Linked DNA regions of Homo sapiens. The protein of the gene in region 4 purifies or fractionates together with the protein of the main gene of each other region. This does not show direct contact. Each region holds a gene or a part of one and is shown on either strand. Other genes may lie near its edges.

Region 1 (3,500 bases), on a different chromosome or scaffold from region 4:
AGTGTTTTAAAGTGGGAATCTAGTCAGGTGAAGATCGAAAGCAAACAGAAGTCGCTGTGAGTAGGTAAGTACAAGAAATAGATTTGAGGTGAAAGAAAGAGAATTTTGGAGGCTGGGAGTGAATGACTGCAGCTGCTAAGCTACTTTGCACTTTCTAGTCTAGGTCTTTGGGCAGTGATACTACATATAGGTATTCAGCTGCCATCCAGAAGGCTATGGAATCACTCCAAAGGCTTCAGTAGTGCTCTGACATCATTCATGACTCTCTTCTCTATCATCTTATATCTATATAGTCTTATAAAAACCCTACCAAACTGTTCTTGTTAAGAGTACAGTACTTGGTGGTAGAAGCAGAAAACCTTTCCTCTTAATTAACCATACATTCATAATTGTTAAAGTCAGAGAAAAATAAATTATTCAACACTGACATTTTATTTTCTGAAGTTTTATCATTTTTACAAAACAAAACAAAATGAAACAAAAAGCAGGTATCAAAAACAGCAAAGAGTTTATAGAATTTCTGCACCAGTTTGCACATAAGTCAGTGATTACAAAACTGGCATCCAATGTAAATACTAAGCACAAGCTCACTTCCCTCTTGGTCAGGTGGTTTGTTTTAGAGCTACTCGATATTTATAACTTTTTATAAGCACCGGTCATTTTTTGAGAACTGATTTGGTTTGTCCAACAAAGTAAACAATTTTTTGCTGTGTGGCAGTTTCTTTTTTTAGAAAACACTGAGCTAAAACACAGAATGTGTATTTGTTTGGATCTGAACCAAATCTTTTGAGATCCCAACTACCCTGAAGAACACTGAAGACATTTACGGGGCATATTAAATGGTATCTTAAATACTAGTTGTATACCTCATAATGTCTAAGGCAGCTATTATATTTCTAAAGAAAGTAGCATTTCATTCAGAGGCTGCCCAGAGTTTAAATTACACCATAGTTTTTCTTTCTTTCTGCAAATCATTCTTTCTGATTTGCAGTTTTTTCCAAACAGAGCCATATTAGTGGAACAAAAGTTTGATGTTCATGCCCAACAAGCTCTGATATTTTATGGATACATTTGTATAAAGCAAGACTTCTTGCTCTGAACCCTGGGTGACCACAAATAAATTGAGGGGCCATGATTATTGGATGCTGAGAGAAAGTAGCATACTTAAACCCACAGTACAGATAATCAGGAGGCAAGCAAAAACAAAGCTATAACTTAGCAGTGGTATTCACCCACCACTTATTCCAAAAACATATTTTGCTTATTAAATAAGGGAAATATGGTCCAGTTTTGCAATGTTAATAGCTGCCAGTCTCTCATATTTTTTATAAATATCATTTCCTGACTAGCAATGAGCTAGGAAACTGGCCTCAAATTCTGACCAAATCTCTCAGTATTAGTTAAAAATAATACAAAACAAAACAGAACAAAAAACCAGCCAACAGGGGTTAAAAGTTGCACAATTAAACTTGAATGTAAATTATACTATATACAGATTGGTATAAACATCACTGAAATGGTTTTGAAAGGATGAAACACTTCTATTTTAACACAATTTCTTCTATATTATCCCAATTTTCATTAAAGGACAACTGATATGTAATTTTTTTCTTTACAGATATGAAAAAGCAAGAAGGCAAAGCTGAGAGAAACAGATGCTACCCACAGGGCAGCGGTGGCATTTGGTTGTTTTGGTCTTTGTACCAGCAATTCCCACTCCCGAGGCAGATAATCCACTTCCTGCCAGACTACACAGTTTTTCTTGCAGTCAAGACACGAACAATGGACCCTACTCCTCCAGCAGCAAGTGCCTAAAAACAAACCAAGATGTAAATGTTGACAGAATAATAAAAGGTCAATTCTCATATTTGGTAAAACATTTTTCTTAAAGAAGGAATGGGCACTGCTATAGACCCTGAATTTATTAGTTAACAAATAATAAATTCTTGAGCACCAATTATGCACCAGGTACTGTTCTTGGCACTGAGGTTACAGTAATAAACAAAACCTTGAAAGTCCCTGCCCTCATGAAGTTACATTCTAGTGAGATACTAGTTTACATTTTAGTACATTAATTCTAAATAATGTTTTAAAAAATCTGCAGCATAGGCCGGGCGCGGTGGCTCACGCCTGTAATCCCAGCACTTTGGGAGGCCGAGGCCGGCGGATCACGAGGTCAGGAGATCAAGACCATCCTGGCTAACATGGTGAAACCCCGTCTCTACTAAAAATACAAAAAATTAGCCGGGCGTGGTGGCGGGTGCCTGTAGTCCCAGCTACTCGGGAGGCTGAGGCAGGACAATGGTGTGAACCCAGGAGGCGGAGCTTGCAGTGAGCCGAGATTGCGCCACTGCACTCCAGCCTGGGCGACAGAGCAAGACTCCGTCTCAAAAAAAAAAAAAAAAAAAAAAAAAAAAAATCTGCAGCATAGTGTTCCTGCTCAAAACAGGTGGACATTCTGCATTTCTCATTCTCACCACATAGTCAGAAGAAAATTCAAACTGGGATCAACCATCCCAACTTCCACTTCGATTAGTCAGCCTTTGTCAGATTTTTTTTCTCCCAAAGAAAGAAGGTATTGTTTAATAGCTAAGAACTTAGAAACTTTAACTCTGACTCTAATTTGAAAAATAGAGAGTAATGATCAAGTATTAGGAATCTGAGCTCTGGTTTCTTTCTGTTCAAAAAATATTTATGGAATACCTTTGTATACTGAGTACTGTGCTAGATGCTGGGGATACAAAAGTGAACAAATACAGCATTTTCTGGTCTAGCATGAGGAGACAGACATATAAACAGGTAATTTTAATCTAATGTATGAAATGAGAGTTGTGCTGCAGGTGCTATTAAAGCACCAGGGAGAGGCTTATACCCAGATTAACAGTATAGAGGAATGTTTCAGCTAAGGCTTCATGGAGGAAATGACACATTAAAAGAATGAGTAGGTGACAGGCTAACACCAGAAAATCATGAGCAAATGTATGGAGGTGTGAAACAATATGGTGCATTCAGGAAAAAGGCTGGCATTGCTATAGCCTGAGGGGAAGAATGACATGGAAGATGAAGCTAGACTTGGGAACTTTGACTTTATCCTGCAGGTGACTGACAAGGGCAATTTTGATTTTAAAGATATCATTTTGATGGCTGGGTGGAGAACAGATTTGAAGGAGGCAAAACTGTTAACTGGGAAACCAGTCAGGAAGCTATGGCAACAGACTGGGAGAGATGCTGTGAACAGCTGCATTAGATACGCTTGAACAGATAGATTTCAGAAATACTTCGAAGATTGGTAAAAACTGGTGACTGACATTTGGAAGAAATGAAGACTTCACACATGCCTCAGTTTCCTCAGTGACAAAAGAGGAATAATAGCAAGCATTTCCCTCCATTTTTATGAGGATTAAATGAGTTAATATTTATAAAGTCCTTTGAAGAATATGTGGAATATAATAAGTAATCAATGTTCACTGCAATCTTGAGGCTATGCTAGAACTACGCTG
Region 2 (3,500 bases), on a different chromosome or scaffold from region 4:
ATAAAAAGCCAGACATCTTGTAAAAAGCAGAACTAAGAATCAGCATACAAAATGCTCTCATAAATGTGATTTTTTTTATCCCTTCCTTTAACACACACCTACCCACTGAAGGGAATATATATCTTCTCATTTTACAAATTTGGAAACAAGCTAAGAGAAGAAGAATGATGTCTTGGTCAAAAGCATAACGCCATGAAGTGGCAGAGCTGAAAAGATAGTGCTTGGGTCTTGGTTTAGCTGGGGGCTGGGTACCCTGATTTATATGATGTTTGTCTTTCTGTAGTGGAAATACTTTGGCCAGATACCAATGTGATGTCACCGAACATAGAATTGGAAGAGATGCACAGCAGCACCCCATTATTTAGTATTTCGTAATAATAACCTTAAGAACATAGACAATAGTAAAATGTAATTTTTAAAAATTAGGTTATTGCCGGGTGCAGTGGCTCACGCCTGTAATCCCAGCACTTTGGGAGGCCGGGGCGGGTGGATCATGGGGTCAGGAGTTCGAGACCAGCCTGACCAACATGGTGAAACCCTGTCTCTACTAAAAATACAAAAATTAGCTGGGCGTGGTGGCACGCACCTGTAATCCCAGCTACTTGGGAGGCTGGGGCAGGAGAATCGCTTGAACCCAGGAGGCGGAGGTTGCAGTGAGCAGAGATCGCGCCACCGCACTCCATCCTGGGCGACAGGGCAAGACTCCGTCTCAAAAAAAAAAAAAAATTAGGAAGTAGGCCAAGTGCAGTGCAGTGGCTCACATCTGTAATCCCAGCACTTTGGGAGGGCAAGGCGGGCAGATCACCTGAGGTCGGGAGTTCGAGACCAGCCTGGCGAAAATGGAGAAACATCGTCTCTACCAAAAATACAAAATTAGCTGGGCGTGGTGGCTTATCCCTATAATCCCAGCTACTCAGGAGGCTGAGGCAGGAGAATCACTTGAACCCGGGAGGCGGAGGTTGCAGTGGGCCAAGGTCATGTCATTGCACTCCAGCCTGGGCAACAAGAGCCAAACTCTGTCTCAAAAAAAAAAAAAAAAATTAGGAAGTAGCCAGGTGTGGTGGCTCACACCTGTAGTCCCAGCCCTTTGGGAGGCTGAGGCAGGAGGAACACTTGAGCTTAGGAGTTTGAGATCATCTTAGGCAACATGGTGAGACTCCTTCTCAAAAAAAAAAAAAGAAGTGATGAATACTTAAGCATCATTGTTTTTAACATTATTTACTTTTTTTTTTTTTTTGAGACAGTCTTGCTCTGTTGCCCAGGCTGGAGTGCAGTGGCACGATCTCGGCTCACTGCAGCCTTCGCCTCCTGGGTTCAAGTGATTCTCCAGCTTAGCCTCCCACATGGCTGGGACTACAGGCGCACGCCGCCACGCCTGGCTAATTTTTTATATTTTAGTAGAGATGGGGTTTCACTGTGTTGCCCAGGCTGGTTGCAAACTCCTGAGCTCAGGCAATCTGCCTGCCTCAGCCTCCCAAAGTGCTGGGATTACAGGCATGAGCCACCACGTCCAGCCAACATCATTTACTTAATTGTAAGTTTATATAATTTGATTTTTGAGAAGAGCTGTGTTTAACAACCAGCTTGAAAAATGCCTCAAAATTTAACAATTGGTTTTCTTGAGCCAGAAAGAACCAGCCCTCGCACCTCAATGCTGCTATCCCTTCTCCCTCCCCTAATTAATCTTGGGTGGTTTACTCTTTTTTTCCTTTAAGGGAAGGTTGTTTGCCACAGTGACATTTGCTCTTTTTCTGCTTCTGTGTTCTTCCTGGGCTTGCCATTACAGGCTTACCACTCTTCTCTCATGGATCCTGATACCAAACTCATCGGAAACATGGCACTGTTGCCTATCAGAAGTCAATTCAAAGGACCTGCCCCCAGAGAGAGTAAGTCTAAACCCATTATTTTCAAATTTTGGTACGAAATGCCTAACAATCTTCTGAAATGATCAAATCAGAAAAATTCTTAGCTCAGTCTTCTCTCTCAAATTGCCCTTGTACTTTGCTTGGTAGATACTGTGGTCTAGACCTTTCAAGATAGTGGTTATATGTTGCATTTAATAGGAAATTGTATTATTTCTTCTGACTTCTCCAGGAAACTCTTTTGAGAAAATGGAGGAAATGTGCTTAATTCTGGACACTGTTTATCAGTTCTTTCAAACAAATCTAATGCTGTTACGTCTAGAATGCCACATGCCCATCCTTTCTGTCATCAACCTGGAAAAGAACAACAACAAATATTTTAACCTCTTCCTCGTCTAAATCTACTTCCTTTATTCATTCTTCAAGATCTTCATTTTTAGCAATACCTCAATCTTAAATCTGAAGTGTACTATGTAACATTACTTACGTCTATTCCCGCTTTTCTGAATTTTATTTCAGAAAGCCGCAATATTTTTCAGACACTGTCTGAGACTCTTCTGATGCTTTCTGAGATGTTCTCCCAACAGTATAATTTGTATTATGTTAGACATGGTTTCCCTGTACCCTGCAAGGGTCTGAACTGAATTCCATTCATGGTTTCCAAGACCATTATTATAATTACCAATTTGGTACTTATCCAGTCCCCATTTCTCTGCCAGACTGTTTGACTTGACCTTTTTTAAACTTAATTTTGTTTTCAACACCATTTGAAAGCTCAGTAAACTTAATGCATATGGTGAGTCACCACAGTCTCTACTTGATTCTGAGGAAAAGGAACAAGGAAGAAGACAGCCTGGGAAAGAAGAAAAATAACATAAAAGAAAATCACAAGGCTGGGTGCGGTGGCTCACACTTGTAATCCCAGCACTTTGGAAGGCCAAGGCAAGTGGATCACTTAAGGTCAGGAGTTCGAGACCAGCCTGGCAAACATGGCGAAACCCCAACTCTACTAAAAATACAAAAATTAGCTAGGCATGGTGGTGGGCACCTGTGATCCCAGCTACTCAGGAGGCTGAGACAGGAGAATCGCTTGAACACAGAGGGTGGAGGTTGCAGTGAGCCAAGATTGCACCACTGCACTCCAGCCTGGGTGACAGAGTGAGACTTCATCTCAAAAAAAAAAAAAAATTTTTTTTCACTGCAAAGGCCAGGCGTGATGGCTCACACCTATAATCCCAGCACTTTGAGAGGTCGAGGTGGGTGGATCACCTGAGTTCAGGAGTTCAAGACCAGCGTAACCAACATGGAGAAACCCCATCTCAACTAAAAATACAAACAATCAGCCGGGCATGGTGGCGCATGCCTGTAATCCCAACTACTTGGGAGACTGAGGCAGGAGAATTGCTTGAACCTGGGAGGTGGAGGTTGCAGTGTGCCGAGATCATGTCATTGCACTCCAGCCTAGGCAACGAGCAAAACTCTGTTTCAAAAGAAAAAAAAAAAAAACCTGAATTGGAATGGAGGCCTGTGCTGTGAGCTAAATAACAGCATTAATCACACTAATTCATTTATATTCAACAAATATCTGTAGAATGCCTTTTATGTGCCAAGTATTCTTCTAATTTCAGAATCCTTTGG
Region 3 (3,500 bases), on a different chromosome or scaffold from region 4:
GAGATGGGAGTTTTGCCATGTTGCCCAGGTTAGTCTCGAACTCGTCAGCTCAAGCCATCTGCCTGCCTTGGCCTCCCAAAATGCTAGGATTACAGGCATGAGCCACTGCAGCTGGACTTTTTTTTTTTTTTTTTGAGACAGTCTCACTCTGTCACCCAGGTGGGAGTGCAGTGGCCTCATCTTGGCTCACTGAGACCTCTGCCTCCCAGGTTCAAGCAATTCTCCTGCCTCAGCCTCCTGAATAGTTGGGACTACAGGCATGCGCCACCACACCCGGCTAATGTTTTTTCTCTATTTTTAGTAGAGACGGGGTTTCACCACGTTGGCCAGGCTGGTCTCAAACTCCTGACCTCAAGTGATCCACCTGCCTCAGCCTCCCAAAGTGCTGGGATTATAGGTGTGAGCCACTGTGCCTGGCGCCCCCCGGGCCCCCTTTTTTTTTTCTTTTTCTTTTTTTTTTTGACAATGTCTTGCTCTGTTGTCCTGGCTGGAGTACAGTAGCGTGATCATGGCTCACTGTAGCCTCAAATTCCTGGGCTCAAGTGATTCTCCTGCCTCAGCCTCCTAAGTAGCTGGGACCATAGGCATACATCACCATGCCCAGCTAATTTAATTTTTTGTAGAGATAGGATATTGCTATGTTGCCCAGTCTGGGTCTCAAACTCCTGGGCTAAAGTGATCCTCTTGCCTTGGTCTCCCAAAGTGCTGGGATTACAGGTGAAAGCTACCATGCCCCGCATAAATCCTTATTTTCTAGAAACAAGAATATTCGGTTTTGTTTTTATACTTTAAATTTATGGAAAAAAAAGCAAATTTTGTTCTCTATTTTGTATTTGCCTGGGATACATTTATAGTTTAAATTTATTGGAAAAAAAAGCATTTTTTTTTTTAACATTTTGAGCACTTGAGCTGTTAGTCAAAAAACAGAATTTTTGCTCAATACATACATATTGGAAAGCTCAGATAAGAACATTTTAAAAGTAGTTTGAGACCTGGGCAACATGGTAAAACCTCATCTGTACCACAAATAGAAAAAATTAGCTGGGAGTGGTGGCACTTGCCTGTGGTCCCAGCTACTCAGGAGGCTGAGGTGGGACGATCACTTGAGCCTGGGAGCAGAGGTTGCAGTGAGATGAGATCATGCTGCTGTACTCCAATGTGGGTGACAGAGTGAGATCCTGTCTCAAAAAATAAAAAAAGAAGAAAAGAAAAAGTAAAATAAGTCTAAACAAACAGAGAGGGTAGTAAATTTATAAAATTTAAAAATAAAAAAAAAACCACTATAGGTTCAAAACAAAAAGGTGGGGCACAGAGGATTTATAGGGCAGTGAAACTACTCTGTATGGAGCTATAGTGACAGATACATGTCATTATACGTTCTCAAAATCAATAAACTATTCACCAAGAGTGAACCCTAATGTAAACTATGGGCATTGGGTAATGTGTCAGTAATGTAGGTTCATCAACTGTAACAAATGTAGCATTCTGGTGTGGAATACTGATAATGAGGGAGGCTTTATATGCCTCTGGTTGGGGAAGGGGGACTATGAGAAATGTCTGTACCTTCCTCTGAATTTTGCTGTGAATCTACAACTGCTCTAAAAAATTCAAATCTATTTAAAAAAAAAAAGTATAGGTTCAAGAAAAAATAATGAGTTAGAAAAACCATGTGATCTAATCCACTAAGACATTTCTTAAATTTTTATCTCAGAAAAAGTACAAAACAAATGCACTATAACGTTACCATGTAATGGAATTGTAACTTTATGTCCTGTTGTTCCTGTTACTGGGGCTGTGGCCATTGTTAGAAGAGTTTGACCAGGTAAAATTGATACATTTTCAGCAGTAATGCTTGAAGAAGGAGCGATTTTCAATTTTGTTCCTTCTGTTATGATCTTGTCCATAAGCATTTCCTTTGGGGGGTCCTCTCCAAAGAGTCTTCTCTTAGCACTCCCTGCGGTAGGAGAACTGTAGCGTTCATGGACAGAAATTGGAGACAATGGTTGCATATCTAAAAAAAAATAATAAATTTAAAACAGAAATGTATTCCAAAATAATAAATTAGGTTTACTCATTCACTCAACAGATAGTGAGTTACTTATGCTGGGCACTAGCTAGATATGAATAACATGGCCTTTGCCCTCATGGAATATGTAGTCTACTGGGAGAAAGAGGCATGAAATAAGTCACTACGATAAAACGTGAAAATTATGATCACTCATCTTCCTGGTTTCTTGAACCTCTGCCTACATTAAAGGAGCAAAACATTAAGGACAAAGTAGAGGTTGAGAGGTAGAATGAAGTGAGCACTAAATTTTAGTAGTAGTCCAATATCTCCCAATCTTACCTAGTAGAGAGCACCTGAGAAGAAGGGAAGCAAAAGCAAAAATCAGGAATTTGGGTCACAGTTTTGCCTCTTTGTGAATATTTGCACTCCAAGCAGTTTAAGGCGGTAGCTCTGGCTTTCTAATTTAGTAGATATGGAATCATCTTTAGTAAATCTATCAGAAGATATGAGTAAAGATGATATAAATCTGCTTACCTTGCCTTAATCTGAGGGTTGGCAGTACTGTGTTGATCAAAAATAAAGTAAGGATTATGGATTTTGCCTCTCTTCCTGTGCTATCCTTTCACAGGATCTGCTTTCCATTCCCTCTCTACCAGCTGCACGGGTTTTTCTAGCCCCTTACAACCCTACATCTTTTCTACATCTTTTTTCACAATTCTTCCCTCAACCAATTATTCCTTACAGGTAGGTCAATAATATGCTTTTAAAACAAAAGTATTTATTTATTTATGAGATGGAGTCTTGCTCTGTCACCCAGGCTGGAGTGCAGTGGCACGATTTTGGCCTACTGTGACCTCTGCCTCTTGGGTTCAAGCGATTCTCCTGCCTCAGCCTCCCAAGTAGCTGGGACTACAGGCATGTGCCACCATGCCTGGCTAATTTTTCTATTTTTAGTAGAGACAGGGTTTTGCCATGTTGGCCAGGCTGGTCTTGAACTCCTGACCTCAGGTGATCCACCTGCCTCATTTGGGATTACAAGCTTCAGCCACCGTGCCCGGCCTTCATTATTTATTTTTACATTCACTAGATAATTAGATAGTCATGTAATCTATTTTCTTTTCTTTTTTTTTTTTTTTTTGAGATGGAGTCTCGCTCTGTTGCCCAGGCTGGAGTGCAGTGGTATGATCTCAGCTCACTGCAAGCTCCGCCTCCCAGGTTCACGCCATTCTCCTGCCTCAGCCTCCTGAGTAGCTGGAACTACAGGCAACCGCCACCATGCCCGGCTAATTTTTTGTATTTTTAGTAGAGATGGGGTTTCACCGTGTTAGCCAGGATGGTCTCGATCTCCTGACCTCGTGATCTGCCCGCCTCGGCCTCCCAAAGTGCTGGGATTACAGGCGTGAGCCACTGCGCCTGGCCCTGTAATCTATTTTCAAAACATGTTCAAAAGGTATGAAAATGACCCCTGGCAATGATTTAGAAGCTCTCTGTA
Region 4 (3,500 bases):
ATGATAACAATTAGACAAAAATACAGTCTGCCCTAAAGTGCACCAAAAAAGATATTAATAAAATAAAATGGACTACATGGCAAAAGATGTTTAAATACATATATATGTAAATATTGCAAAACTGAGGCCAAATATATCAATCATATCAATACATATAAATATGCTTAAATCACCTATCTATGAGTATAAATGAGCTTAAGTCATCCAACAAAAGGCAACATTTTCATATTGACTAAAAAGCAAAACAATATTTTGGGTACAGACAATTCAGAAAGAATAATAAAAGGATGGAGAAATATATATATATCTATATCAGACAAACACAAGGAGAAGCAAGCAGGGATCACACATCTTGATATCTGACAAAGTACAACTCGGCTGAGAAAACAATTAGAAGGCTACTTGATATGCTAAATCAACAACTCTAGTGAAGAGACAAGTTATTTCTATCTAGATAACCAATATGGCAGCAACAACTTTCATAAAGCAGAACCCACAGAAAATGCGAGGAGACCTTAATAGGTTACTAACAATAGGAGGCCTTAGTATGCCATTCTCAGTCCATGACAGACTAGGTACACACACACACAAAAATGTGAGCCCAGACATGGTGGCTCACCCCTGTAATCCCAGCACTTTAGGAGGCAGAGGCGGGTGGATCACCTGAGGTCAGGAGTTCGAGACCAGCCTAGCCAACATGGAGAAACCCCGTCTCTACTAAAAACACAAAAATTAGCCAGGCATGGTGGCGGGTGCCTATAATCCCAGCTCCTCGGGAGGCTGAGGCAAAGAACTGCCTGAACCCAGGAGGTGGAGGTTGCAGTGAGCCGACATCACGCCACTGCACTCCAGCCTGTACGACAGAAGGAGACTCGGTCTCAATTAAAAAAAAAAATTGGAAGCCCTAAATAACATAATTAATAAGGTAGTTCATATAGACACATTAAACTCAGAACTTATAAAGATTGTATCTCCTAGCCAGGCGCGGTGGCTCATGCCTGTAATCCCAGCACTTTGAGGGGCCAAGGTGGGTGGCTCACCTGAGGTCAGGGGTTCGAGACCAGCCTGGCCAACATGGTGGAACCCCGTCTCTACTAAATATAAAAAATTAGCTGGGCGTGATGGCGGGCGCCTGTAATTGCAGCTACTTGAGAGGCTGAGGCAGGAGAATTGCTTGAATCCAGGAGGTGGAGGTTGCAGTGAGCCGAGATCGCTCCATTGCACTCCAGCCTGGGCAACAAGAGTGAAACTCTGACTCAAAAAAATGAATACAAAGAACATTCGCAAACCCTCTTAGGCCACAATAAGTGAAAACAAACAAACAAACAAACAAACACCAGAACTATCCCACTAAAATCAGGAATAAAATAATAATGCCCACTAACTCCACTCTGATTTAAATTAACATTGCTTTGGAGGTAATGGCCTCTGCACTGTGTCAATAAAAAAGCAGTTAAGAGTCCCTAAAAATGGAAAGGAAGAGGTAAAACAATCTCTTTTGCCAATAACAGGTTTTGGTTTTTATTTTTGAGACAGCGTCTGGCTCTGTTGCCCAGGCTGGAGTACAGTGGCTCAATCTCAGCTCACTGCAACCTCCGCCTCCCAGGTTCAAACGAGTCTCCTGCCTCAACCTCCCATGTAGCTGGGATTACAGGCGTGTGCCACCACGCCCAGCTAATTTTTTTGTATTTTTAGAAGAGACAGGGTTTTGCCATGTTGGCCAAGCTGGTCTCAAATTCCTGGCCTCAAGTGATCTGCCTGCTTCGGCCTCGCAAAGTGCTTGCAATTACAGGTGTGAGCCACTGCGCCAGGCCCAATGACAAGTTTTTATATCTGAAAATCCCTAGGGATCAAGGGAAAAATTTATACAAATAATATGAGCATTCTGTAAAGCAGCACGTTATAAAATGAGTAACTACCATGAAAAACCACCATGTAATCTAGGAATGAAAAAACTAACAATCTTCATATATTCAAGAAAAACAAGATAAAATGGAAGAGAAGGCACCATTTATGATAGCAAAAAAAAATCAAATACATAAAGTTAACAAGAAATCTACCTGCAGAAACACCACAATATTCCTAAAAGACACAAAATAGACTTGAACTAATGGAGAGATAAACCATGTTCTTTGATGGGAAGACTCAGTATTATACAGATAATGATGCTCATTAAATTAATTTTTAAGTTTAATAAAATCCCAATAAAAATGCCATCAGGCTTTCTCTCCCAGAACTAGAGAAACTGATTACAAAGATCACTTGGAGGAACAACAATCGAAAATACATGGGAAAGCCCTAAAAAGGAATTAGATGGGCAGGGGAAGCCGGCACCATTAGAAATGAAATCATTCTAAAGAGCCTAATTAAAACTGTGTGGTGCTGCTATTATGAACAGACCAATAGACTAACTCAACACAATACAAAATCCAGAAAGAAACACAATTGCATAGACAAATGCAGCATATGATAAAGGCAGCATCTCCAGTCATTGGGTTTTTTCCATAAATTATGTTGAGATAAACAGGACAGCCATAGCCACACACACACAAAAGTGGATCCAACTGGGTCCATTCTTCATACCTTATCTCAGGATAAATTCCAAATGAATTAGAGATTTAAATGAAAAAAATGAAACCATTAAAAAAAAAAAAAAAACCTACCAGCTGGGCACAGTGGCTCACATCTATAATCCCAGCACTTTGGGAGGCCGAGGCAGGTGGATCACCTGAGGTCAGGAGTTTGAGATCAGCCTGACCAATATGGTAAAACCCCCTTCTCTACTAAAAATACAAAAATTAGCCCGATGTGGTGGCATGCACCTGTAGTCCCAGCTACTCGGGAGGCTGCAGCAGGAGAATCGCTTGAACCCAGGAGGTGGAGGTTGCACTGAGTGGAGACTGTGCCGCCGCACTCTAGCATGGGCAACAGAGTGAGACTCTGTCTCAAAAAAACAGAAAAGAAAAAGAAGAAAAGAAACCACCATGTAATCTGGGAATGAAAAAAACCTTTCTTAACTATGACTCAAAATCTAGAAACAATAAAGAAAAGATGAATAAATCCGATTGCCTAAAGAAAACAAACTTTGCATGGTAAAAGACAAATGATAAATAGGGGAAATATATTTGCAACGTATATCATTAAGGGTTAATATTCTCTATGTGCAGAAGAAAGTTAATGGGCCTGAGACTGCTGTCTCTTAGAAAGTCCTGCTTGGAGGAATGGCCTTTAATTGGTATCTAGGATCTTGGAGTTCAGGCGTTCCCACCATTCCCTAAATGCTAAAAGTAGTTCACTGCTCCTAGAGTGGCAAACAACGTGGTTTATGCCAATGCCTTGCTTTCCTTCTGGGACTCTGGAATTCCGGCACGTGCTATGCACAGGGTGCCTGCATGACAAGTCCCCAGTGAAAACCTTGGGCCCTGTGTCTCTGAGGAGCTTCCCTGGTACGGAGCATTGCACACGTGTTGTCACAGCCTGATGCTGGAGGAATTAACTGC
Region 5 (3,500 bases), on a different chromosome or scaffold from region 4:
TGTGAACCCACGAGGCGGAGCTTGCATTGAGCCGAGATCGCACCACTGCACTCCAGCCTGGGTGACAGAGCAAGACTCCATCTCAAAAAAAACCCCAAAAAACCATATATATATATATATATATATATATATATACACACCACAGTACTGTTATACCTCATAATTTGAACAATAATTATATCTTGTCATTTAATTTTTTTTTTTTTTTTTTTTTTGAGACAGGGTCTCTCTTGGTTGCCCAGGCTGGAGTGTAGTGGCACAGTCATAGCTCACTGCAGACTCCAATTCCTGGCTCAAGTAATCCTCTTGCCTCAGCTTCCTCAGTAGCTGGGACTACAGGCAAATACCACCACACCCAGCTAATTTTTTAATTTTTATTTTTGTAGAGACAAGGTCTTGCTTTGTTGGCCAGGCTGGTCTCAAATTGCTGACCTCAAGTGATCCCCTGCCTCAGCCTCCCAAAGTGCTGGGATTACAGACATGAGCCACTGTGCCCCACCTAATTTCTTGAATATGTGAATTGCAATTAAAATTTTCTGATGGTAACAAATATCTCACTCATTTTTATTATCTATCTTTTGTTCTGTCTTGGTTATCAGGTTTGTTTGTAAGGCTAATTTGTCCTTTTTTTTTTCTTTTTTTTTTTGAGATGAAGCGTCACTGTGTTGCCCAGGCTAGAGTGCAGTGGCGTCATCTCACCTCACTGCAAACTCTGCCTCCCAGGTTCACATCATTCTCCTGCCTCAGCCTCCCGAGTAGCTGGGTGCCCGCCACCATGCCCGGCTAATTTTTTTGTATTTTTAGTAGATATGGGGTTTTACCATGTTAGCCAGGATGGTCTCGATTTCCTGACCTTGTGATCCGCCCGCCTCGGCCTCCCAAAGTGCTGGGATTACAGGCATGAGCCACTGCGCCCGGACTGTTTTTGTTTTTCTTAATTGAGTGATGGATAGTGTAGAAAAAGAACTATAGCAATAATTTAAGGCTGTGGATAAAGTTATTTTTGGAGAAAGGGACTTTACTTTTTCAAGTAGATCGCCATAATCCAGTCAGGATGTGGTCCACATGAGGCCTGGGGTATTTCCAGTTTGCCCTTTCTCCTGATATCCACCCCTTTGGGTATGAATCATCAAAAGTCCTGAGGTATTTATCAGCACCTCTCATCCTTAACGGTCCCTGAACATCCATTTTCCTCTCTGTCATCATGAGACTTTGGGTGGCTTTGCTGTTCAGGGTCTCAGTCACAGCTTTTGATTTGGAAATCAGCAGTCATCTTGAGGGGAAGAGCTTCAAATGCTAGGCTCATATATCTTGCTTCCCTCTTCTTTTGAATCTTGGAAACCTCTCTTCCCCAACACCAAACTCTCACTATCTTGTTAGGTCTCTGCTTGCTTACAAAAATTTTTAAAAATGTATTTTATCTGGTTTTTTAAATTGTAACCAGAGGAAAATTTGGTATGAAACAACCCAGAAAATCATTGCCAAAGCAGAACTCTCAGAACTTCCTGAACTTAATATTCATACTTTTGATATATTTGGCATTCTTTTTTTTTTTTTTCCCATTGTTAAACACTGTGTAGGCCAGGCACAGTGGTTCATGCCTGTAATCCCAGCACTTTGGAATGCCAAGGTGGGCAGACCACTTGAGGCCAGGAGTTCAAGATCTGCCTGGCCAACTAAAAATACAGGTGAAACCCTGTCTCTACTAAAAATACAAAAAAATTAGCCAGGTGTGGTGGCTCACACCTGTAGTCCCAGCTACTCAGGAGGCTGAGGCTGGAGAATAGTCTGAACCCAGGAGGCAGAGGCTGTGTGAGCCAAGATCGTGCCACTGCACTCCAGCCTGGGCAACAGAGCAAGACTGTCTCAAAAAAAAAAAAAAAACCAACAAAAAAACAACCTTTATGTTGACACATGTATTCTCTCAAAATTCCTTTTTGACCTTTTTGACCACTCCATTAGTCAAAATAAATTCTCATGACTGTTAGTTTCCAATTGATATAATAATTATTGAAATCTCTTCTTCTAAATCAATCACAAAATCACCATACAGATATTTAAAAATTAGTCTCTTTAGTATACTGTCTTATCTTTTTATTACTTTTAGCTTGATTGCCTGTCCTCTTCACCAGGTTTTACTACTTAAAACTAATGGTTATTGTTCCCCAAATTAAATCTTAGTCTTCTACAATGACTCTTGGGTAAATATATTAAATGCATCATGGATCGTTGACATTTCCAAAATATAAAAAATTTAAGTGTTTCGAGTAGTAGTGGTATATCACCAGAAGACTGCTCATTTAAGAATTTTGTTTTTTGTATAAATATTATTGTAATAAATGTACTTTATTGGAATAAATAAAAATTCCCCAAGGAGACTAGTTTGATATACTATATTTCATCAGTTTTAAGATCAAGGATTGCTTGAGCCCATGAGTTTGAGACCAGCCTAGGCAACGTAGCGAAACCCTGTCTGTATAAAAAATTTAAAAATTAGCCAAGCATGGTGGCGCACACCTGTGGTCTTAGCTACTTGGGAGGCTGAGGTGGGAGGATTGCTTGAGCCCAGGAGGTTGAGGCTGCAGTGAGCTGTGATCGTGCCACTGAACTCCAGCCTGGGCAACAGAATGAGACCCCGTCTCAAAAATAAATAAATAAAAAGAGCATGGTGTCATAGTTTACTTTTACATAAATTCTTTCTTAGTGTTACATGAAATAATGGCATAGAATTTTGACTAGTCGTCACCTGTTAAATTTTTAGTCCCATTTTGTTTTCACCAGGGAGGTGTTACTCCAACACCGTTTGCTGCTCAGCGAGAAAAATACTCTAAAAAAAAATCTTCATAGTTGAATTGCCAGCTGCTTACATAGACCAAGTTGGACTTCAGAATAAGAATATACTATTATCATTAAAATCTGGCCACGTTTAAGCCATGGATTAATTATTGAGTTAAATGGGCAGGGAGGCAGGGATGGTGACCTGGAGAACGTGAACTGCTATAGAATCTTGTCATTATTGAAGAGATTCCCAAGATCTTTCTAAATTTCCAAACTTACTGATACCATGAGAACATTTTTTCCATGATGTGCTATATTGTATAATCTACCTTATAAGACTATTAAAATTAATGGTGCCAGAAAAATAATTATGTACTTATTGTGATAACATGTATGACATTAACCATGAACTAACCTTAATCATCAAAGAAACAAAATTTTTAGTCACAAGTAATGTTTAGAACAGATAGATAATTGTAATAGCTATCCATAGAATAGGTAGAAAATGATATAACAATATAGAGTTGCAAGTCTAAGATAGTCAGCTCTGCCCTACTAGCATAGTTAGCTTGCTTCTACTCTTAAACCTTGTATCATTTTGAAATGGAAAGTATGTCTTGTAAAAGTAGTGGTTACTCTGCATTATTGACCTTCAGATTACCTGGAGTCAAATTCTTGAATGTTAAATCCACTAAAGCCAAGGGTCTACAATGCTATAAAGA
Region 6 (3,239 bases), on a different chromosome or scaffold from region 4:
ACCTGTTTCTTTCAATTTTCAAACTCAAAAATACTGAATCAAATTTTAGTTAAAACACTTCCTTTTGACTTGTTCCTCAATTAATGCTCAATTATCTCATATATTCAGGAGGTTAAATCCCCCCTAAACATTAATGCTATTTACAAATTTGATCGAATACCCTTACGCATTTCAAGCTAAAATTTGAACATCCTTCTCCCAAGTATTTGAAATAATCACAGAGAAACTCCCAGACAAGCCATGCACTAAACGCTGCTCAGATTCCCACTCGCATCCCAGCCCTTTCTCCCTCCCACCGCCTTCCGCAGCAGTCCAAGACAGCAGCCCACTCCGGGCCCACACACTGCACCTGGGCTGGGCACCGCCCCACCCTGGCTGGCTCCCTGACTCAGTGCCTGTGCCATCTGCAAAGGCACGGTGACAGCACTTACATTTTATAAAGACACTATGAAGATGTTCATGAGATCTGCGAAGACAGCGCGCAAAGAAAGCACAACCCGTGACTCGTATTTAATTTATTTAGAATCTTACAAAAACAAAAAACAAAACAAAAACCACCACAACAGAAAAAAAAACTAAATACAGAATTTGTTACGCTTCACGGTTGATCGTTTTTACTTGCAAGAGTAAATAAACCTTGCTAAAATGCAGCCAGTACATTTTTATTGCATGAGACCAAATTTTTCAGTTACATATCAAAAATGATTGGGATAATCAATTCCGGACGCTTGGTACCGTGCTCCCACGAAAGGCTGGATGCAGCAATGCAGTATCATTGGAACAGGGCGCACCCTTCACACACTGATGGACACGCTACAACAGGAGCGATAACAAAAGGGAGATTTAAAAAAGAGAACCAAATGAAAACACACCAAGAGCTGACATCCACCTTTGTTTCAAGTTGTCTTTGGATCCCATCAGATGTTGTCTCCAGATGCACCATGTCAGATTAGTAAAGGAGAACCATCTACACCTACATAGAAAAGTATCCTTTGCTCAGAGGAGGTAGAACCTGGCCAAAGTTTTATTGCAGAGATACAGTGTACCTCTTCCCACCTCTCATGGATGATGGAAGATACAAGTGGTTATTGAAAAATCATATCAGTAGTTTGCAAATTCAGTATAAACCATGAACAGGATATTTTTCTGATAGCGGTGAGACTGCAATGTGCTATGTAGAAAAAAAGCTCTCTCTGCCCCATAAAGTGGGAGTCAGAAAGAGGGCTCAAGCTTCTTTATCCTCTTCAGTGCCATAAATACTGTCACAGCAAAAAGGCCTTCAGTGTCTGCTGGCCAGAAACATCTGCCCAGGCACAAATGGGCCACAAGGGCAGGGTACTGGTTAGGGGCCCGCAGTGGAAAAGCCAGACAGGTTCTCACCAGGGGCCTGCAGAGTGGCCTTCACTCTGGAGGACGCCTGAATTACAAGTATCAAAAAGAACCCGCCTTTTTGGGCTTCTTCTTTTCCTTGCTTAGCCCTGCACTAAGGGGCAGTCTTGCTGGACGGTGCCCTGCCACGTTGCGGCAGCCCAGATGGCCGCACTGCCAACCACAGCACGGCTTCCCCATGGGCGCCAGAGGGAGACTGAGCAAGGAGGGTCTGCGTGGAGGATGCACACTGGAGGCAATCTGTGACAGGCCCCAATTCACGACAAATTTAGTTCCCAAGACTGATCCAAATACAGAATGCTTTTACATTTTTCACCAAGTCTACCAAGTTGAATAGTAATGAATGAAACTTGTACATGAATGAAAAGGCCCCAAAGACGCTCACGGCAATCCTTGAAAGTTATAAAGGAACATTTTCTTACAGGTGCAAAATTGTGAACAAATACCCAATGTCTGCCTCCCGGGTGCTCAACACCATCATTTTGATGAACCATCCGGGTCTTCCCAACTCGAATTATTAAAAACGCCTCGATCCCGCTCTGCTTCTAGGCTTACGGCTGATGTAGACAAGATCCACTCACCGATACAAGGGTGGAGAGCACAGCCGTTCAGGGTACCCCAGGGACCAGTGCTGCAATGGGAATCTGCTTGTCTCACCCTCCAGCAGAGTCAGCCTAGGAGGCTCCAGAGCAGTTGCTTGGCTCTCTTTTGGAGGACAATTGTTCCTTAATGTACATTCTCTCTCTTTTTTTTTTTTCGAGACGGAGTCTCGGTCTGTTGCCCAGGCTGGAGTGCAGTGGCGCGATCTGGGCTCACTGCAAGCTCTGCCTCCCAGGTTCATGCCATTCTCCTGCCTCAGCCTCCTGAGTAGCTGGGACTACAGGCACCCGCCACCACGCCTGGCTAAGTTTTTTTTTTTTTTGTATTTTTAGTAGAGACGGGGTTTCACCGTGTTAGCCAGGAGATGGTCTCAATCTCCTGACCTCATGATCCGCCCGCCTCGGCCTCCCAAAGTGCTGGGATTACAGGCGTGAGCCACCGCACCCGGCCAATGTACATTCTCTAAAGTCACCTGTCAATAACACACTAGGCCTGCCTCCTGCCTGCTATAAATATCCTCAACAGGTTATAAACAGCAGCAGGCTACCTGTGTTCATTGCAAGTAAATTACTCATCATTTGTAGGTTAAAAGCATAGGCCCGACTTCTTAAATAAACATAGGGAATTTGCTGCAGCAGCAGGCCAGAAACCACTGTTTCAAATCTGCAAGATTTTCCTATCAGGTGGGAAGACAGAGATAAGAAATATGGTAAGGCCTGAAAAATTGCAAAAGTAGAAGCAAGTCAGGTTTGCTGATCTAAGAGCTAAGTTTGATCCCAAATGCACTGAAGAAGTTAGAGGAGCTTAAAGAAGTCTCAGGAAGCATTTTTTAAAATGTGAAAACATCAGGCTCACTATAGCTTCCAAAGAACAACATAAACGAGCATCAGCAGTCATACAATGACAGTATCAGAAATGGCACTCAAGTGCATCCCCCCAGTACAATGCATTGCACACAACACAATAAGACATAGTAAAAAACATTAACACAAAACAGGAATTCTACAGCAAAGATGCAAAACTGAATTCTAAAATACAGGAACAAATACTTTTCTAAATGAAAAGTTTTCCATACTTTTCTTAAAAAAAAAAAAAAAAAAAAGTCATAAGATGCCCCATATGGGAAAGTCAAGAAAAGAATAAATAGAGCTGAAGGGAAGAGGGAAAAGGGAGAAACAGGTGGGCAGAGTCCCAATTTACAAGAATTATTTACATTCAGAATCCAGAAGAACTCAACATTTCTCTATATA
Region 7 (3,500 bases), on a different chromosome or scaffold from region 4:
AGCTATTTAAGTCCAATTTACCAAGCTCTTAGAAGGCATAAAAGCAAGCTTGTCCAACCTGCCTTATTCTGTTGTTGTTTTGCTTTTAGGCTTTTAGCGCCTGAAAGCCATGGATTTTAGTTTCTGTCTCTAGTGATAAGCAGAAAAGAGGGAGGAGGAAGGGGCTTTACCGACCCAACCAGAAACAGAAACTAGGAACCCATGACTGTATTCTCTTCCTTGGACACTTCTGGTATAAAGCATCCCACTAGAAGAGTTATTACAAAATCAATTTAATGGGTTACTTAAAAAATATGAAACAGAAAATATAAGAGCACAGTACAGACAATAAAATTAAACAGTATTTTGAAACTTTTGTTTCAGATATACGCTACACCCACATCTGTATGGGTTGCAATATAAAGACAATAGGTTAAGTCCTATATTTTTATTAGCTTAAAATCACCACCACAAGAGAAAAATTGAAGATTCAGGTATTGAGGCTGGTGGTAAAAATGGAAAAACCATGGACACCGTGGAGTCAGATAAATCTGACCCTGATCATGCCCCTGCTGCTGGCTATATAACCTTCGACAAATTATCCAACCAGAAATGCTAATTTGTAAAACAGGAATGTAACCAGTAGCAGAGGTGCTAGTTACCAGCCTAGTCCTGCTGCTTTGGAACCATCATACAAACCCAGTACCACCTACCTTTCTAGGCCTTTTTTTGGTTACATTAGAAACTTTTCCATTATGAAGCCACCATTATCTTGGGTTTTCTACTCTATTCAAGTGAACCTAATCCTCACTCACCAGGTCATGATGACTAAATGACTAAAGTTCCTATTACAATTCCTAGTACAGAGCAGACATTCAAGAATGGTGCTGCTTGTGCTACTAATATTCTTGTTTTAATGCTCCTTCCCTACCACCAGCCCCTATCAGAAATGCTACGCAGCGGCCAGGCATGGTGGCTCACGCCTGTAATCCCAGTACTTTGGGAGGCTGAGGCAGGTGGATCCCCTTAGGTCAGGAGTTCGAGACCAGCCTGGTCAACATGGCGATACCCCGTCTCTACTAAAAATACAAAAAAGTTAGCCAGGCATGGTGGCACACGCCTGTAATCCCACCTACTCAGGAGGCTGAGGCAGGAGAATCGCCTTAACTCAGGAGGCAGTGGTTGCAGTGAGGCGAGATCATACTGCTGCACTCCAGCCTGGGTGACACAGCCAGACTCCGTCTCAAAAAAAAAAAAAAAGAAATGCTACACAGCTCTTGTATATAAACTTAATCAAGAGTATTTTCAGAATTATGACTCTCTCTTAAAATAAATCAAGACCTATGACACAGAACAAAACCAGGACTCCAAACCACTGGTAAAAACAGAAGTTGTAAAGCACCATCTAATTCTTTTTTTTTCCTTCTCTATATAAGAATGCCTATACTTTTTGACAGGCCATTTTGTGAAGTAAATATAATGTGAAGATGATCTGGAAAACTTCACTCTAAACAAAAATGTACTACTAAGAAAGCAGTACTTATTATGTCTCATTTATCACTCTTTAAGAACTAGATCCTCTTGCCCTATAAACATACATAATTATTTGTTAAAGAAATTTTTTTTAATTCTTTTCTAAAAAAAACTAGTCATCCCCCAGTATACGAAGGGGACTGGTTCCAAGACGCCCACATACACCAAAATCCCCACATACTTAAGTTCCAGGCTGACTGGAACCAGCAGATTTGAAAAGCTGGCCCACTATATACATGGGTTTCAAATCCTGCAAATACTGCATTTTCCATCCACGTTCGGTTGCACATGTGCAAACCACGGACACAAAGGGCTGACTATATTTATTGAAAAAACCTGCATTGTGAACCTACATAATTCAAACCCATGTTGTTCAATGGTCAACTGTACATCCTCAACAACCAGCTAACACAATGATTTGACTGACCCAGACCCTTCCTGGAGAATACATATAATCCTGGTAAAAGTACCATTTGAGAATAGATGATTTCTAGTAAAAGAAAACATTTCCTCTTTATCAGAGACTGCAAATAACTTCATGGTAGTTAAGTAAACTCTAGAGATCATCAACAATGCTGGAATAGCGCGGGAAGAGGAGTACACTGTCAATAAAATGACAAAAATGGTTGCACATATGATATGTCCTTAAATTCAAGTTCACTGGCTTTGTAAAGGGTCACTGGTCTCAAAACAGAATTCACTCAGTATTCAGCCCTCAGCATCTAATCAAAGCTTCTTGTATCTGACATTCATACATACCTTCATCTAAATAGGAATCTGCCAAACTTCCTCCTAGCTTCTTGATAATATGAATTGCCTCCAGGTTGCCAGAGCCTTTCAGTCTGAGAACTGCTTCTACAGCTAACTTTGTAAAGTGGTCTTTGTGATGAGTAAGAAGTTTTGAGGATAATGTTGTGCCCGCAATATTCATTAAATCTTGACGGAATTTAACTTCATCGGAACTAAATAAAACCAACCAAATATACATATTAACCCTACTTTACTTTTCAAAATTTATCTAGATATTCATGTCAATAGATAATTTTACCCTAACTGATCAAGTCTGTAAGCTATATGAAAAGAATTAAACCTCAGCAGTAATCAAGAAACACAAATTAAAGATGTTATTTTCCCCACCAAACTGGCAAAATGCCAAAAAAAAAAGAGGGGTGGGGGCCACACAAGCATGCAAAAGTCTAATGTTGGCAAGAATGTGAGAAATGGCCGGGCACAGTGGCTCACGCCTGTAATCCTAGCACTTTGGGAGACTGAGGAGGATGGATCACTTGAGGTCAGTTCAAGACCAGCCTGAGCAACATGGTGAAACCCCATCTACACTAAAAATACAAAATTAGCTGGCTATGATGGCACATGCCTGTAGTCCCTGCTACTTGGGAGGCTGAGGCAAGAGAATCGCTTGAACCCGGGAGGCAGAGGTTGCAGTCAGCCGAAGTCGTGCCACTGCACTCCATTCTGGGCAACTCTAAGAGCGAGACTCCGTCTCAAAATAAATAAATAAATAAAAGGACGTGAAAAACAAGTATTATTATACAGTTGTGAATGGGCAAATAAATAGAAGTGCCTTAAAACAGTGGTCCCGGACCTTTTTGGCACCAGGGACTGGTTTCATGGGAAGACAATTTTTCCACCTGCTGCTCACCTGCTGTGCAGCCCAGGTTTGGGGGTGCCTTAAAACACACACACTTACCTTTGGACCCAACAATTACACTTCTAGAAACCTTTGGGCTATGTCGCAACGTCACAAAGTTATTTTATAATGCTAAAAATCATCAAATACACAAATCTCCCCCTACAGATAGGTTAATACAGTCATTCTAGCCAAATATTCAAATGTGTAACTCTATTAAAATACTGCACAGAAAATTGACATCCAAAAATGTGCTTAATATTTAACTAGGTTAAAAAGAGGCTAACAAATTCTCTATACAGTATTATACTATTTGCTTTATTTGTATATTTTGATGATA

The links.
Region 1: the proteins of ACTR3B (region 4) and ARPC5 purify together in Homo sapiens (affinity purification with mass spectrometry; 6 studies listed by BioGRID and IntAct, with this or other methods). This does not show direct contact.
Region 2: the proteins of ACTR3B (region 4) and ARPC3 purify together in Homo sapiens (affinity purification with mass spectrometry; 8 studies listed by BioGRID and IntAct, with this or other methods). This does not show direct contact.
Region 3: the proteins of ACTR3B (region 4) and RBL1 purify together in Homo sapiens (co-immunoprecipitation; one large-scale study listed by IntAct). This does not show direct contact.
Region 5: the proteins of ACTR3B (region 4) and ME2 fractionate together in Homo sapiens (co-fractionation; one large-scale study listed by BioGRID). This does not show direct contact.
Region 6: the proteins of ACTR3B (region 4) and SBNO1 purify together in Homo sapiens (affinity purification with mass spectrometry; one large-scale study listed by BioGRID and IntAct). This does not show direct contact.
Region 7: the proteins of ACTR3B (region 4) and CCT2 purify together in Homo sapiens (affinity purification with mass spectrometry; 2 studies listed by BioGRID and IntAct, with this or other methods). This does not show direct contact.

What each region holds. Positions count from the first base shown.
Region 1 is NC_000001.11:183,625,784-183,629,283, forward strand, and holds part of ARPC5 (actin-related protein 2/3 complex subunit 5), read right to left. Parts: intron 1,812-3,500; coding exon 1,749-1,811; 3' UTR 1-1,748. UniProt on the Homo sapiens protein: Component of the Arp2/3 complex, a multiprotein complex that mediates actin polymerization upon stimulation by nucleation-promoting factor (NPF).
Region 2 is NC_000012.12:110,443,838-110,447,337, reverse strand, and holds part of ARPC3 (actin-related protein 2/3 complex subunit 3), read left to right. Parts: intron 1-1,786; coding exon 1,787-1,886; intron 1,887-3,500. UniProt on the Homo sapiens protein: Component of the Arp2/3 complex, a multiprotein complex that mediates actin polymerization upon stimulation by nucleation-promoting factor (NPF).
Region 3 is NC_000020.11:37,033,498-37,036,997, forward strand, and holds part of RBL1 (retinoblastoma-like protein 1), read right to left. Parts: intron 2,012-3,500; coding exon 1,745-2,011; intron 1-1,744. UniProt on the Homo sapiens protein: Key regulator of entry into cell division. Directly involved in heterochromatin formation by maintaining overall chromatin structure and, in particular, that of constitutive heterochromatin by stabilizing histone methylation.
Region 4 is NC_000007.14:152,766,252-152,769,751, reverse strand, and holds part of ACTR3B (actin-related protein 3B), read right to left. Parts: intron 1-3,500. UniProt on the Homo sapiens protein: Plays a role in the organization of the actin cytoskeleton.
Region 5 is NC_000018.10:50,927,618-50,931,117, forward strand, and holds part of ME2 (NAD-dependent malic enzyme, mitochondrial isoform 1 precursor), read left to right. Parts: intron 1-3,500.
Region 6 is NC_000012.12:123,288,609-123,291,847, forward strand, and holds the end of SBNO1 (protein strawberry notch homolog 1), read right to left. Parts: 3' UTR 501-3,239; downstream 1-500. UniProt on the Homo sapiens protein: Plays a crucial role in the regulation of neural stem cells (NSCs) proliferation. Enhances the phosphorylation of GSK3B through the PI3K-Akt signaling pathway, thereby upregulating the Wnt/beta-catenin signaling pathway and promoting the proliferation of NSCs.
Region 7 is NC_000012.12:69,588,459-69,591,958, reverse strand, and holds part of CCT2 (T-complex protein 1 subunit beta), read right to left. Parts: intron 2,475-3,500; coding exon 2,272-2,474; intron 1-2,271. UniProt on the Homo sapiens protein: Component of the chaperonin-containing T-complex (TRiC), a molecular chaperone complex that assists the folding of actin, tubulin and other proteins upon ATP hydrolysis.